Homo sapiens: one gene and its partners. The protein of the gene in region 1 interacts with the protein of each later gene in a biochemical or structural test. Each region holds a gene or a part of one and is shown in the gene's direction. Other genes may lie near its edges.

Region 1 (3,860 bases):
CCTCGTGTATATGGCAGTATCATAGAGGTTTTAGAGCTGGTAGAGATCTGGCAATCTAACTTAACTCTTTCTTGCTAGCAAAGGCTGTTGGTCACCTGACTGGCCTAACGGTAGGAGGTAGAAGGCAGAAGGAAAGTAACTGAATTGAGAAGCTGTTTCTGTTTAATAAGGTGTTGCTGAAGCTAGTTAAACCCTCTACCTGTCTTTAAACCCTCTACCTGTCTTTGGGTTAATTTACATGTTTGTCATCCCCTTACCTGGATATTTATAGCTGTACCCAGGAACCTTGTCTATACTGAGAATATATAGTGATGAGGGTTTTTCTTTTTCCCAGGTATTCCTGATTGTCATCAAGCTTATAGTAGATGAACCACTAAAATAATACTACAATTTGACATTAGTGTTCTTGTACTTTATACTATTGAAACTGAAAAATACTGTATTAAACCAAGTAATCTGACAGTCTATGAATGTTCTAAATGAATACCACCTCCAAGAAACATGGAAACAATGGTAACTGTTTTTCCTAGTAAACTCATTCACACCTATAAAATGAATGGAAATTAAATTGTTATGGTCACACAACGTCATAATGCGTTACAGGCAAAGCTGTTGACCACTTAGAGGTAGTATTCATTGAGAAACATTCTTAGACTGTCAGATTGCTTGATTTAGTGTAAAGTAATTTTTTTTTTTTTGAGACAAGGGTGTTTCACTCTTGTTTCCCGTGCTGGAGTGCAGTGGCGCAATCTTGGCTCACTGCAACCTCAGCCTCCCGGGTTCAAGTGATTCTCCTGCCTCAGCCTCCTGAGTAGCTGGGATTACAGACGTGGGCCACCACGCCTGGCTAATATTGTATATGTAGTAGAGACGGGGTTTCTCCATGTTGGTCAGGCTAGTCTCGAACTCCTGACCTCAGGTGACCTGCCCGCCTTGGCCTCCCAAAGTGCTGGGATTACAGGCGTGAGCCACCATGCCTGGCCAGTGGACAGTATTTTCTAGTGGGGAGAATTAAAGAAAAACTTTGTCCGGGTGTAAACCAGCTTTAAATCTTGGTTCTCTTACAGTGCCATGGTAGGGATAGTCAGTGGAGGCTTTCAAATTCAGAAAGATTGATAATACCTTAACATGGTTCCTATTTCTAATTAATAATAAAATGTATTTGTGCTTTTTTAATCAAAGGTTTCTACGATAAAGACAGTTCAGGGTGGAGTTCTAGCAAAGATAAGGATGCGTATAGCAGTTTTGGATCTCGTAGTGATTCAAGAGGGAAGTCTAGCTTCTTCAGTGATCGTGGAAGTGGATCAAGGGGAAGGTAAGTGATTTCTTAATCACCTTACGTGTATGTATAATAACAGTTTAATAAGTCGTTATCCTGACCACCTGTTTGGATGTTAAGCATTATGTCTGTTTGGTCATTGTATTTTCTTAGCCGTAAGAGGCTTTTACTAAATTGAACCTGTTACTTAGAAATTAGATGAAAATAGGAATATGCTCATTGGCATAATGAAATGAGTTATTCTATTTCTCGAGTTTTATATGTTCTACTTAAAAGAGTAAGTTCATCTAGTGAATGGCCTAATTTGGTTGGGATTTTTGTGGACTCTATAACAATTTCTAAACACCTTGTATTTTTGATTACACAAGTGTGGTGAACTGACCCCACGTGCCTAATAGCTGTGGTTAGTCCTGTGTCCTGATTTTTCGCAAACAGGCCTAAAACTCTTAAAAACATCTTAGTTCAGGTAAGGATTATTTTCTACCTTTTATCCAAAGTCTGTCACACAGGTGAATTGTCCTTTAAGTGACATCCTAGTATAACTAGGACGATTGATATTTGGTGTGCTATTTTCTTGTTTTCCCTACCATTAAATATATTTGGATGAGCACTTTAAATGAAGGTTGTGAGCTGTGTGCCGATTTCAAATAAAATCCTTATTCTTAATTTTGGCATCTGTGAGGCCTTTTAGGCTATACAACTTTATAGAAATGTAAAGATTACTGATTTTAGAAAACGAGGTTATGTAAATGATGCTGGTTAGAGAGCCTTATTTGTCAAGTAACTCAGAATTGGATTGTTGACATCCTTATGGTTAGCCATAACTTAAGTCTCCAGATACAGTTCTAGAGTAGGGATAAGAATCTGATAATGGTTAAATGATATGATTCTGATTAATTGCTTGTGCTGTTCAGGTTTGATGATCGTGGACGGAGTGATTACGATGGCATTGGCAGCCGTGGTGACAGAAGTGGCTTTGGCAAATTTGAACGTGGTGGAAACAGTCGCTGGTGTGACAAATCAGATGAAGATGATTGGTCAAAACCACTCCCACCAAGTGAACGCTTGGAACAGTAAGTTTTTGAAGTGTATGTTACTTGTGATGAAGCCTTACTAGCTAGTATAACAAATGAACTTATCCATTTTTTGATTTGAGGGAACTCTTTTCTGGAGGCAACACTGGGATTAATTTTGAGAAATACGATGACATTCCAGTTGAGGCAACAGGCAACAACTGTCCTCCACATATTGAAAGTGTGAGTATTTTTGCTTGACTTTTTAAGACACAGAGAGGTTAAATGTTTTCATGTTACATTAGAATGTGAGATGGGCTTCATAAAGTCATGTAGACCAGAGGCTTCATAGATTTGTGGAAAAGGAGAAGTTGAGTTCAGTGTCACCATTATGAATAATTTATTACCTAAAATAGAAAATGGGTCAAACATAGGAACAACCCAAAGTCTTCTCCAATGTGCAGTAAGCCTGGGGGTTGGTTTTTCTCAAAGTATAATGTGATAATTTTACTTAAACTATAAACTGAGTTACCAATCAGCTGTTGGTTGGTTGTTTCCATTATTAGTATAAAACAGAAATAGCTCTAGATAGCATTCCTAACCCCATTGAATTTCTTAACAGTTCAGTGATGTTGAGATGGGAGAAATTATCATGGGAAACATTGAGCTTACTCGTTATACTCGCCCAACTCCAGTGCAAAAGCATGCTATTCCTATTATCAAAGAGAAAAGAGACTTGATGGCTTGTGCCCAAACAGGTAAGCTCAACTCATAAGAGTAAAACATCATATTTCTTCTGTAAAGGACTAGACAATAAAATATTTTATTTTTTATGGGTCATGCAGTTTTGCAGCTGCTCTGCGCTGCTATTGGACTGTGAAAGAAGCCATAGATGATACATAAATTATTGGTTACGGCTGTATTCCGTAAGAGCTTTATTTATAAAAATAACAGGCTTTATTTACAAAATAGTCTCAGTTTGCTGACTCCTCTTAGAGGTGGAGCAGAGAAGCCACTTTTTGGAAAACTTAAGCATAAACTAAAAGTACTAATTATTAGTAATAGGGTAGTTAAAAAACACTGTCATCTACCAATGTCTGTTTAAAAGTAATGAGCAGGATTTGTTTGTTTGTTTTTGAACAGGGTCTGGAAAAACTGCAGCATTTCTGTTGCCCATCTTGAGTCAGATTTATTCAGATGGTCCAGGCGAGGCTTTGAGGGCCATGAAGGTAGATGTTTCTTTATAAAATGGGAAATTGTAGAACTTTGTAGGTGGCCATTGAGAGGGCTTTCTAAATGATGCTAAGACTTAAGTAGAATGAAAACCAGTTTTCAAGTGTAATCTGTAATCTATAAATTACAAAAGGGAATTATGTTGTGATGAACTTTTCAAACAGGGTAGGTAGAGTTAACTTAAAAATTAACTTATTTCTTAGGAAAATGGAAGGTATGGGCGCCGCAAACAATACCCAATCTCCTTGGTATTAGCACCAACGAGAGAGTTGGCAGTACAGATCTACGAGGAAGCCAGAAAAGTAAGTATGAGTTCCAGTGATTATTAGCTTTTT
Region 2 (3,500 bases), on another chromosome or scaffold:
GGGTGTGGTGGCTTATGCCTGTAATCCCTGCACTTTGGGAGGCCAAGGTGGGTTGGATTCCTTAGAGGATCACGTGAGGTTGGGAGTTCTAGACCAGCCTGGCCAACATGGTGAAACCCTGTCTCTACTAATAATACAAAAATTAGCCAGGCGTGGTGGCACAGTAATCCCAGCTACTCGGAGGCTGAGGCAGGAGAACTGCTTGAACCCGGGAGGTGGAGGTTGCAGTGAGCCGAGATCGTGCCATTGCACTCCAGCCTGGGTGACAAAAGCAAAACTGTCTCAAAAAAAAAACCAAAAAACAGTATGGGTTCCTTGACCATCCTGGTCAGCATAACTTTAGGGGGTTAAGCGGGGTGAAAACCATCTAAGGACACAGAGGTGGCCTTAGCTTGAAATAATTGTCCCCATGTCTAGAAAATGTTCCTGGGGGTTCCATAGTTGATGCCCTAGCCATGCCACGTTGCCCCAGAAGGAGAGTGGGGACCTGGCCTAGAATGTCTTGACTTTGAATTCCCTTGGCAGGTTGTATGAAATCTTGGAATTGGCTGAGGACATGGAAATTGACATCCCCCACGTGTGGCTCTACCTAGCGGAACTGGTAACACCCATTCTGCAGGAAGGTGGGGTGCCCATGGGGGAGCTGTTCAGGTAAGTCCCCCTGGGTGGAATTCAGGGGAGGTAAAGACCAGAGGAAAGGTGGTAGGGAAATGGCTGGGTTGGATACCCTGGTTTGGAGGGAGATGGAGTAGTGGTGAGAGAACTGTGGAGGCTGTCAGCATTAGGTTTTTCTCTTCTTGTAGGGAGATTACAAAGCCTCTGAGACCGTTGGGCAAAGCTGCTTCCCTGTTGCTGGAGATCCTGGGCCTCCTGTGCAAAAGCATGGTGAGTGAGGGCCAGGAGTCCAGAGATGCCTCCCACGGTGTGGTTTTGGCTGTTTGCTGTGGCCCTGAAGCTTCATGGTCCATTGGTGGAGTGGAGTGATGGTGATGACAGGATTGTGTTGGTACCTGGGAGAGGAAATACTGAGGTGGGCCATCTCCCGCACACCAGTTCCTATCATGAGTTCTGGCCAAGACTGGAGGAGAATGGCAGTCTAAGACCCTAGGCCTGTGATTGATGCATTTATTTATTCATTCATTGAACTAGGGTTTTGTTGATGATCATTTATCATATACTAAGCACTAGGGACACAGCAATGAATAAAACACAAGAAACAAGTTGGTAGAGAAAAAGGAAGAAATGGGCCGGGCGCAGTGGCTCACGCCTGTAATCCCAGCACTTTGAGAGGCCGACGTGGGTGGATCACGAGGTCAGGAGTTCAAGACCAGCTTGGCCAATATGGTGAAACCCCATCTCTACTAAAAACACAAAAATTAGCCGTGTTGTGGCAGGTGCCTGTAATTCCACCTACTCAGGAGGCTGAGGCAGGAGAATCACTTGACCCGGGAGGCGGAGGTAGCAGTGAGCCGAGATTGTGCCACTGCACTCCAGCCTGGGAAACAGAGCAAGACTCTGTCTCCAAAAAAGAAAAAAGAAATGACAGCTTGATAAAAACAACAGTAAAGCGTGACATAAAACAGTTGAAATAGAGTGGAGTATCTTAAGTACTGTGGGGTTGCAAAGGAATATTTGACAATATTTGTGACAGGAGGCTTTCAGGGTGCTGAAGCGGCTTTGTGAAAGTTAATTGGTAACTAGCGAATATAAAGGTAAAGAGATGGGGAAAGGTAAGTTGAATGTGGTACTTAGTGGAAGTGAGAAGTTGGGGTGAGTGTGTGCAGTTTCAAGGGTTCAGCCATCTGGAACCTGGAGGAATCACACTTGGGATTTAAAGGAATTGTTATGTCAACATCATTTAATTCTTTTAAATAGACGTGTACCAGGACAAGTTGTTTTTTAACAACAAATAAGCATATTGAACTATTTGTGTATTTCATCAACTCCAAGGTGCCATAGATTATAAGACATTCTTTATGCGCTGTTAAGAAAGAAAAGACTGGGCCGGGCGTGGTAATCCCAGCACTTTGGGAGGCAGAGGTGGGTGGATCACGTGAGGTCAGGAGTTGGAAACCAGCCTGGCCAACATGATGAAACCCTGTATCTACTAAAAATACAAAAAAATTAGCTGGACATGGTGGTGCGCACCTGTAGTCCCAGCTACTTGGGAGGCTGAGGCAGGAGAATTGCTTGAACCCAGGAGGGGGAGGTTGCAGTAAGCCAAGATTGTGCCACTGCACTCCAGCCTGGGCGACAGAGCAAGACTCTGTCTCAAAATAAAAAAAGATATATATCGGCTGTAAGACAACTTTTAGTTAAAATGTGAAAAAATGGGCATGTTTTAAAATCTGTGAACTGCAATAATCTTGCTAAGAGCCAGTGCCATTAGTCTGTTATAAAGAAAAGAGTGATGTCTTCATAGTCTATTGCCCCTTACAGAAAATGCACTCAGACTGCTGGTTTTATGAGGATTTTTTATTTGTGTTAGGGATGGGGTATATTTGTGTCTTAAGATTTTCTGGGTTTAGGAAACAAGCATACTTGTTAGAAGTTGTCCCTTCCTAGAGGCCCTTACATCATTTTTCCTACCCTAGTGTCATAGCACTTTGGTGGACAAGTTCTCTTTTATTTTATTTTATTATTATTATTTTTTTGAGACAGAGTCTCGCTGTGTCGCCCAGGCTGGAGTGCAGTGGCGTGATCTCAGCTCATTGCAACCCTCGCCTTGGGTTCAAGCGATTCTCCTGCCTCAGCCTCCCGAGTAGCTGGGATTACAGGCACCCACCACCACGCCTGGCTAATTTTTGTATTTTCTGTAGAGACGGGGTTTCACCATGTTGGTCAGGCTGGTCTCCGACTCCTGACCTCAGGTGATCCGCCCACCTCGACCTTTCAGAGTGCTAGGATTACAGGCGTGAGCCACCGCCCGCTCCTGGGACGAGTTCTTATTTATTTGGGTGGTTATTTGACTGACATCTGTGCCCTGCACCAGACCGTAGGAATGGAAGGGCTTTGCCTATTAGTATTTCTATAGCATCCTTAATGCCTAGCAAGTACCTAGTAGGCTTTCAGTAAATATTTGTTGGATTAATGTGGTAGAGCTGTTGGGTCCTTGGAGAGAGAGAGCTTTGGTAAGCTGGGTTGGTCTTGTGTTTTCCAGGGTCCTAAAAAGGTGGGGACGCTGTGGCGAGAAGCCGGGCTTAGCTGGAAGGAATTTCTACCTGAAGGCCAGGACATTGGTGCATTCGTCGCTGAACAGGTTTGGGGATGGAGTTGGGTTAATTCTAGCATTTGAGGCTGGCCAGTCTTCTTTCTTGTCTCCTGTTGGCAACCTTACCTCTTAACTGCGGGCCTTTTCCATTGCAGAAGGTGGAGTATACCCTGGGAGAGGAGTCGGAAGCCCCTGGCCAGAGGGCACTCCCCTCCGAGGAGCTGAACAGGCAGCTGGAGAAGCTGCTGAAGGAGGGCAGCAGTAACCAGCGGGTGTTCGACTGGATAGA
Region 3 (3,500 bases), on another chromosome or scaffold:
AATTGGCTTGTCAGATGGTGACAGGCGCTGGGGAAGAGTTTAGGGATTGCTGAGGAGGGGCGGAGGTAGCCTGTGGTTTTAAAATGGGTGTTCAGGGAAGGCTTCACTGAGGCTGTGACATTTGGTCAAAGATCTGAAAGGCTGGGCCGGACGCAGTGGCTCATGCCTGTAATCCCAGCACTTTGGGAGGCCGAAGTGGGCGGATCACGAGGTCAGGAGTTTGAGATCAGCCTGACCAACATGGTGAAGCCCCGTCTCTACTAAAAATACAAAAATTACCTGGGCGTGGTGGTGGGCACCTGTAATCACAGCTACTCAGGAGGCTGAGGCAGGAGAATCACTTGAACCCGAGAGGCAGAGGTTGCAGTGAGCCAAGATTGTGCCATTGCACTCCAGCCTGGGCAACAAGAGCAAGATTCTGTCTCAAAAACAAACAAACAGACAAACAACCCCCAAAAAACAAAGATCTGAAAGGCTGAGGGGCCCAGGGGAAAGGCTCCCATAGTGATCCAGGACAGGGCATTATGAGGGCTGGCAGAGGGACCAGTGCCCAAGGGGAGCTACTTCATGGAAATTGTCACCAAGATGTAGCTTCATCTGGCCAGAGAAGCCATGAATTGCAGCCGAGCGCCCTCCCTCTGTGACCTGCCTTCCAGTGCCATGCCCTGTAGGGCTGGTTCTGCAGCTTATTTGCTCCTGTCCTCACAGTCCCTAGTATGGGGTGGGCTTGGGGGCTGGTTGAGCTGAGTGATTTATGGGAATAGGAACACAGCCGGAGGAGCTTACAGTGATGGGGCTTGGGATGGAAGTGCGGCCGGAGAGGGGCAGTCAGTGATCAGTGTCCAAAACACACGAGCCGGTCCCACTCTAGTGGTGTTCCTGGCACAGTAAGCCCCGGGTGGATGAGCTGGGGGGTGGGGAGGCACAGAGAGCCATTGTGTGGAGGCCTTGCTGGTGGGACCGAGGGCAGGCGCCAGCTGTGCCATCCCAGAAAGCTCAGGGCAGGGGATATAGGGATGGGGTGGGCCTCAGACCTGGGCCTGGACTGTGATGGGGATGATAGTGCTGGGACAGAAGTTGAACCCAGTCATTCTCATAGGATAGAGAGCCATGGGTGCTAGCCTGCTTAGTGCAGGGAGATGAGGAGGCACAGGGCATAGCCCTGGGGCAGAAGCAGTGATGCTGCTGTTCTGGACCAGAGGCTCAACAGCATCTCCCCTCCGCACCCCACAGGAGCTGCCAAGGCCATGTCTGTTCCATCATCACTGAGCCAGTCGGCCATTAATGCCAACAGCCACGGAGGCCCCGCACTGAGCCTACCCCTGCCTCTGCACGCTGCCCACAACCAGCTGCTCAACGCCAAGCTGCAGGCCACAGCTGTGGGACCCAAGGACCTGCGCAGCGCCATGGGGGAGGGTGGTGGGCCTGAGCCAGGCCCTGCCAATGCCAAGTGGCTAAAAGAGGGCCAGAACCAGCTCCGGCGGGCCGCCACGGCCCACCGTGACCAGAATCGCAATGTGACCTTGACCTTGGCGGAGGAGGCCAGCCAGGAGCCTGAGATGGCACCCTTGGGCCCCAAAGGCCTGATACACCTGTACTCTGAGCTGGAGCTCTCAGCTCACAACGCAGCCAACCGAGGCCTACGAGGACCTGGCCTGATCATCAGCACTCAAGAGCAGGGGCCAGATGAGGGAGAGGAGAAGGCGGCCGGGGAGGCCGAGGAGGAGGAGGAGGATGATGATGATGAAGAGGAGGAGGAGGACTTATCTTCTCCCCCAGGGCTGCCTGAGCCCCTGGAGAGTGTGGAGGCCCCTCCCAGGCCCCAAGCCCTTACAGATGGCCCCCGGGAACACAGCAAGAGTGCCAGCCTCCTGTTTGGCATGCGGAACAGTGCAGCCAGTGATGAGGACTCAAGCTGGGCTACCTTATCCCAGGGCAGCCCCTCCTATGGCTCCCCAGAGGACACAGGTACCTTGTGGAGCTTGACATGGGCATGTGGGAGGGTGTGAGGGCAGAGGTTAGGACTCTCATACAGAGGCCAGTGCCAGCCTGATGTGAGCTGAGAGCCCATACCCTGAGGCCACAGCAGGCCATGTCCAGGCTTTTTCATTCAGAGAGTGCTTGGACATTCTGGTAGATCTGACCATCATGCATGCCCGGATGGATGGATCTATTCATTATGCATGCCACCATGGTTGATAAGTGGACTAGTTTACTGGGCACTGACTAGGTAACTGGCCCTCTGCTCAGCATTTTCAGGCTTTATCCTTACAATAAAGCTGTGAGGTAAATATTATGATGATTCCCATATTACAGATAACAAAAAAGAGATCCAGAGAGGTTTAGTAGCTTTCTCGAGACCACAGACAGGCTGAGATTACAATAGAGCTGAAATCTAAACCAGGTCTCAGTCCAGGCCTGAGCTCTTGGCCCCGTGTTATGCTGCCGCCAATGCATAGAGCACAATGCACTCAGGTGCACTTGGGACAGTCGGCCCCGTTTTTTTTTTTTTTGAGACAGAGTCTCACTCTGTCGCCAGTCTGCCCCGTTTTAACAGGTCACGCCTGTTGGGAGCAGCCAGCAGCTCCCCACAGAGGTCTGTTTGGAAAGACTGGGAATGTTGTGTGCTTATAATCCACATGCTCCAGCACCATTGCAAGGATACAGTTTTGTCAGGAGTAGGATATTGACTAAAAGTTAGAAAAGAAAACCCTTTGGGTAGGGGGAGGAGAATAGATACTAGGACTCCAGGGCTTAATCATTAAATATGTCCATTTAAATTAAGCTGAGTCTCCACATTTTCTAATGTCGTGTAGCGAATACAGGAAAAGCTGAGGAACAAAGAGTGGAGATAATGGGCTATAGTTACAACCAAAACCCTGGAGTTTTGTAGATGGAGGTCTAAGAAAGATTAGGAAAGACCCCTATCCTTACCAGGTGGCGGACACAATACCCATACCCCAAACTGTGCAATCTTTGTGGAGAACATGCAGTTCAGATGAGCCTAGGGCTGCACACCATCCCCTTTCGAAAAACTCATTCTGGACATTTTCAAACATACACAAAAATAGAGAGAAAAGAATAATGAGCCTGATTTACCCACGAGCCAGTTTTACCAATTATCAATACATAACTAATCTTGCTACCTGCATGCTCTCTTCCGTTCCTAGGCCCAGCGTAGGTTATTCTGAAGCAAATACTTTTATCTATAAATGTTTACAGCTGGGTGCAGTGGCTCACACCTGTAATCCCAGCATTTTAGAAGGCTAAAATGGGTAGATTGCTTGAGCCCAAGAGTTCAAGACCAGTCTGAGCAACATGGCAAAACCTCTCCTCTATAAAAAAGACAAAAAAATTAGCCGGGAGTGGAGGCATCAGCCACTGTGGTCTCAGCTACTCAGGTGACTGACCTGAGAGGATCATCCGAACCCAAGAAAGTCGAGACTACAGTGAGCCATGATTGAGCCACTGCATTCCAGCCTGGATGGCAGAGAGAGACC
Region 4 (3,500 bases), on another chromosome or scaffold:
GTCTTACATTTTGTTATGCTCCTAAGTGTAATTGATCCTGGAAAGTAAGCGCAAGGCTACTCTCTAATGCTAACTCTTATGTATGTAAGAGGTGAGGAAGGAGAGGTTGTGTGTGGTGCATTTGTTTTGTAAAAGCATCTAACTGTTTTCTTTCCAGACACTTTTTCAAAAATGGCAATGGTATCAGAATTCCTCAAGCAGGCCTGGTTTATTGAAAATGAAGAGCAGGAATATGTTGTAAGTAGAGTGATAATAAAATTATGATTACAATATTGAAATAAAAACGAATATAAGTAAATGGCCATTAATTTATTTCTCTCTCATTCTTAGCAAACTGTGAAGTCATCCAAAGGTGGTCCCGGATCAGCGGTGAGCCCCTATCCTACCTTCAATCCATCCTCGGATGTCGCTGCCTTGCATAAGGCCATAATGGTTAAAGGTAACGTGTTTCCTCAAAACAGTTCCCTCCTGGACATTTCAGAATGGCTATTTGAATGACTGTCAAAAAACAGACATGTGCAATGGAAAGAATCTGTTTCATTTTGAAGATAAAAACATTTCTTTGCCAAACGAAGATGTAATTATTTACTTAACACTGAGGAAATTGTGTTCACATCAGTGGAATCTCTATTGTTACAGCAGATATTACTGGCTCATTTCTAGCAGAAATTCCATGCTGAAATTAAAAGCTCTGTTCACATATAGAGTTGCAACTAGTATCAAACACTGCAACACTGAGGGCCAGGAAAAGTTAATTGTCTCTTCCTTTCTCACTCGAATGAAATGTCATTCTCCCAAGTGCTTCCTTGATATGTAGTATAGCATCGATTTTTTAGGCTGATATATAATTTATATTTCTTAATTTGTTAAGAAGTTCTTTTGGAGCATCTCAGTAATGAATTATTTTATGTCAATTGATGATGAAGAAAATTGGTGTTAAAGGCTGTTGGCCCTTTATTTCCAGGTGTGGATGAAGCAACCATCATTGACATTCTAACTAAGCGAAACAATGCACAGCGTCAACAGATCAAAGCAGCATATCTCCAGGAAACAGGAAAGGTAAGTTAGAGTGGTAAATTTAGATATTTAATTTCAGCATAGTTATACTTAACCATGGATTCGGAAGCACAGTTACCTAGTTCTTTAAGGTTCTAACCACTGTTTTCTCATTACATCTATGATTGGGATTGCAGTGTTTATCCACTTTGTTGCAATTTAATCAATTTTATCAAATTTCCTATTTTTATACATTAGTCATCTTGGTGTATATTGTTTGCAGATGTGGTGCTCTGGGGACAAATTTTTAATTTGAACGTAAACATCGAGATTGCTGCTGTCAATAAAGAATATGGTCTGATTGAAATGTACTAATATTTAAACTGAACTGTTTAATGCCTAAATTTTATATATAATTCTACTTTAAAAATAAGCCTTATGTCTTTTATACCAAATATGAGTAGTTTTCTAAAGCAATGAAATTAGAAAACTATATAATTTCAGTATCTGATTATACTGCTTGTTATTTGAGAAGTACAAACCTCAAAGATTGGAAACATGAATATATTATTTTAAAAGTAATTTTACTTCTGTTTTCTGTTAGCACACAGTCCTCTGTGTTTTGATCTTTGTGATTTCTCCCCTGTGTATAAGATTACTAACCCTATGCTTTAAGAAGTTATTGATGAATTCAGTAAATTTTATTTTAATCCCTCTAGATCTGGAAGGGTAAGATAATGTTTCAAAATATTTGGTACACTTTGTATGTGAAGGGAAGAAGCTCTAAAAGATGGTTGGGTTTAGGGATGAGTTGTACGATGACCTAAAGTCAGGTAATATCACATTTTTTAACCTAGCATGTTACTTATTGGAAGTCCTGATTCTAATCTTTTTTTTTGTAGCCCCTGGATGAAACACTGAAGAAAGCCCTTACAGGTCACCTTGAGGAGGTTGTTTTAGCTCTGCTAAAAACTCCAGCGCAATTTGATGCTGATGAACTTCGTGCTGCCATGAAGGTAAATCGCCCAATTTGAGCAAACTCCTTTCCTCAAGAGGATGTATTGGGCAAGTCACTTATGCTTATGTTATTTTCAAAATCTAGTATAGTACCTGTCAATCAGTGGGAGTTTGAAGAATAAATAAATTAATACCTCAATGAAGGAATTAATATATAAATGAAAACAGAAATGTTGGCACTAACACCTTCCATGTCATGTCACTATATGAGTCATATATTTGCATTTTTATTTTTACCCAAAATATTGATGATAAACTTGTTTTGTTTTAGGGCAATGTAATAGAGCTTATTGTAATTATTAAATGTTGTGGGTGAAATTTACTAAATGACAGAGTCAAACAAATTTTGGAACACCAAAAACTCATTGATCCTCTTGCATGAAGATTTTTTTCTACATTTATCCTTTTCTTCTCTTCAAATTTAGGGCCTTGGAACTGATGAAGATACTCTAATTGAGATTTTGGCATCAAGAACTAACAAAGAAATCAGAGACATTAACAGGGTCTACAGAGAGGGTAAGTTGTAATGTCCAACAGTCCAAACGCCTTATTTGAAAAGGAAATCTAATATACTTTCTTAAAATTGACTGTCTATGGTAATTATGGCAGCTTTGGAATCTCCACATATCAAAATGTTTCTTTATTGTTTGGCACATGTCTATTAAATGCTGTTACCAGGCAACGCTTGAGTTGCTAGGTTGCTGACAAGGGAGATGGTGTCCCAATCCGCATCAAGCTTGCGTTTTAATAGAAAATGTTCCTCTAGGATAAATGGCCACATACGATTATAATGGAAACCTCAATTCAGAGCATTGAATTTTTAAAAATTTCTGAAAAACACTTTTCTATTATTCTGGAATGTATTTTATAAAAATGTCCCAAGGTCATTTTTTTTGAAAAGAATATATAATAACAAAAAAATCTCCTAACAAAATGTTTTTCATTTGTCCTTGAAAAAGTAAAGAATTAGGTGCTTATAATTCTCTGTTGGAAACCTTAACTTTATCGTTATGAACATAAGAGACTCACTTTATCTCTAGTTAAATTCACAGAATAAAAGACTAGTCTTAGCTTATTTTATCTCTCCAGTGAAGCATCTCATTTAAATGATGTGCTCAACACTGAAAAGAGGGTAATTGCAAGTCTCTTACCATTTTCCTACTCTCATTTCCCTGAGCTGCTGGCTTTTTGGCTTTCCCAATGCAATATATGGCATATAGAAGATCTTTCTGCTTGATTCTCATACCAAGCATGGAGAATACAATAGCTTTTGCATATCATTTTCAGAGGAATTTAATAAAAGAATAAAAATAAGGAAGCTTTTAAACCTCATTTTCTGCAATTCTTATTTAATTACCAATGTTTATGTTAGATCCATGTGTCAGTGGTAATAATGATGATTATTTTTGTTTGATAAAACATAGTTTATAAAAATAAGTGTTTATATATTTTTCATATGGCCAAGATATAGGCCAGTGATAGTTTAT

Evidence for each region. Proteins that work in one complex are often made in the same cells at the same time.
Region 2: the proteins of DDX3X (region 1) and EIF4G1 form a complex in vitro, tested with the Homo sapiens proteins (one study listed by IntAct).
Region 3: the proteins of DDX3X (region 1) and APBB1 form a complex in vitro, tested with the Homo sapiens proteins (one study listed by BioGRID).
Region 4: the proteins of DDX3X (region 1) and ANXA1 interact in a test that uses a peptide from one of them, tested with the Homo sapiens proteins (one large-scale study listed by BioGRID).

Annotation. Positions count from the first base shown.
Region 1 is NC_000023.11:41,340,302-41,344,161, forward strand, and holds part of DDX3X (ATP-dependent RNA helicase DDX3X), read left to right. Parts: intron 1-1,182; coding exon 1,183-1,315; intron 1,316-2,193; coding exon 2,194-2,352; intron 2,353-2,435; coding exon 2,436-2,535; intron 2,536-2,914; coding exon 2,915-3,050; intron 3,051-3,435; coding exon 3,436-3,521; intron 3,522-3,728; coding exon 3,729-3,827; intron 3,828-3,860. UniProt on the Homo sapiens protein: Multifunctional ATP-dependent RNA helicase. The ATPase activity can be stimulated by various ribo-and deoxynucleic acids indicative for a relaxed substrate specificity.
Region 2 is NC_000003.12:184,328,106-184,331,605, forward strand, and holds part of EIF4G1 (eukaryotic translation initiation factor 4 gamma 1), read left to right. Parts: intron 1-525; coding exon 526-651; intron 652-803; coding exon 804-885; intron 886-3,160; coding exon 3,161-3,259; intron 3,260-3,366; coding exon 3,367-3,500.
Region 3 is NC_000011.10:6,409,095-6,412,594, reverse strand, and holds part of APBB1 (amyloid beta precursor protein binding family B member 1), read left to right. Parts: intron 1-1,233; 5' UTR 1,234-1,247; coding exon 1,248-1,968; intron 1,969-3,500. UniProt on the Homo sapiens protein: Transcription coregulator that can have both coactivator and corepressor functions. Adapter protein that forms a transcriptionally active complex with the gamma-secretase-derived amyloid precursor protein (APP) intracellular domain.
Region 4 is NC_000009.12:73,158,365-73,161,864, forward strand, and holds part of ANXA1 (annexin A1), read left to right. Parts: intron 1-157; coding exon of another isoform or gene 158-171; coding exon 172-237; intron 238-330; coding exon 331-439; intron 440-964; coding exon 965-1,059; intron 1,060-1,898; coding exon 1,899-2,012; intron 2,013-2,438; coding exon 2,439-2,529; intron 2,530-3,500. UniProt on the Homo sapiens protein: Plays important roles in the innate immune response as effector of glucocorticoid-mediated responses and regulator of the inflammatory process. Has anti-inflammatory activity.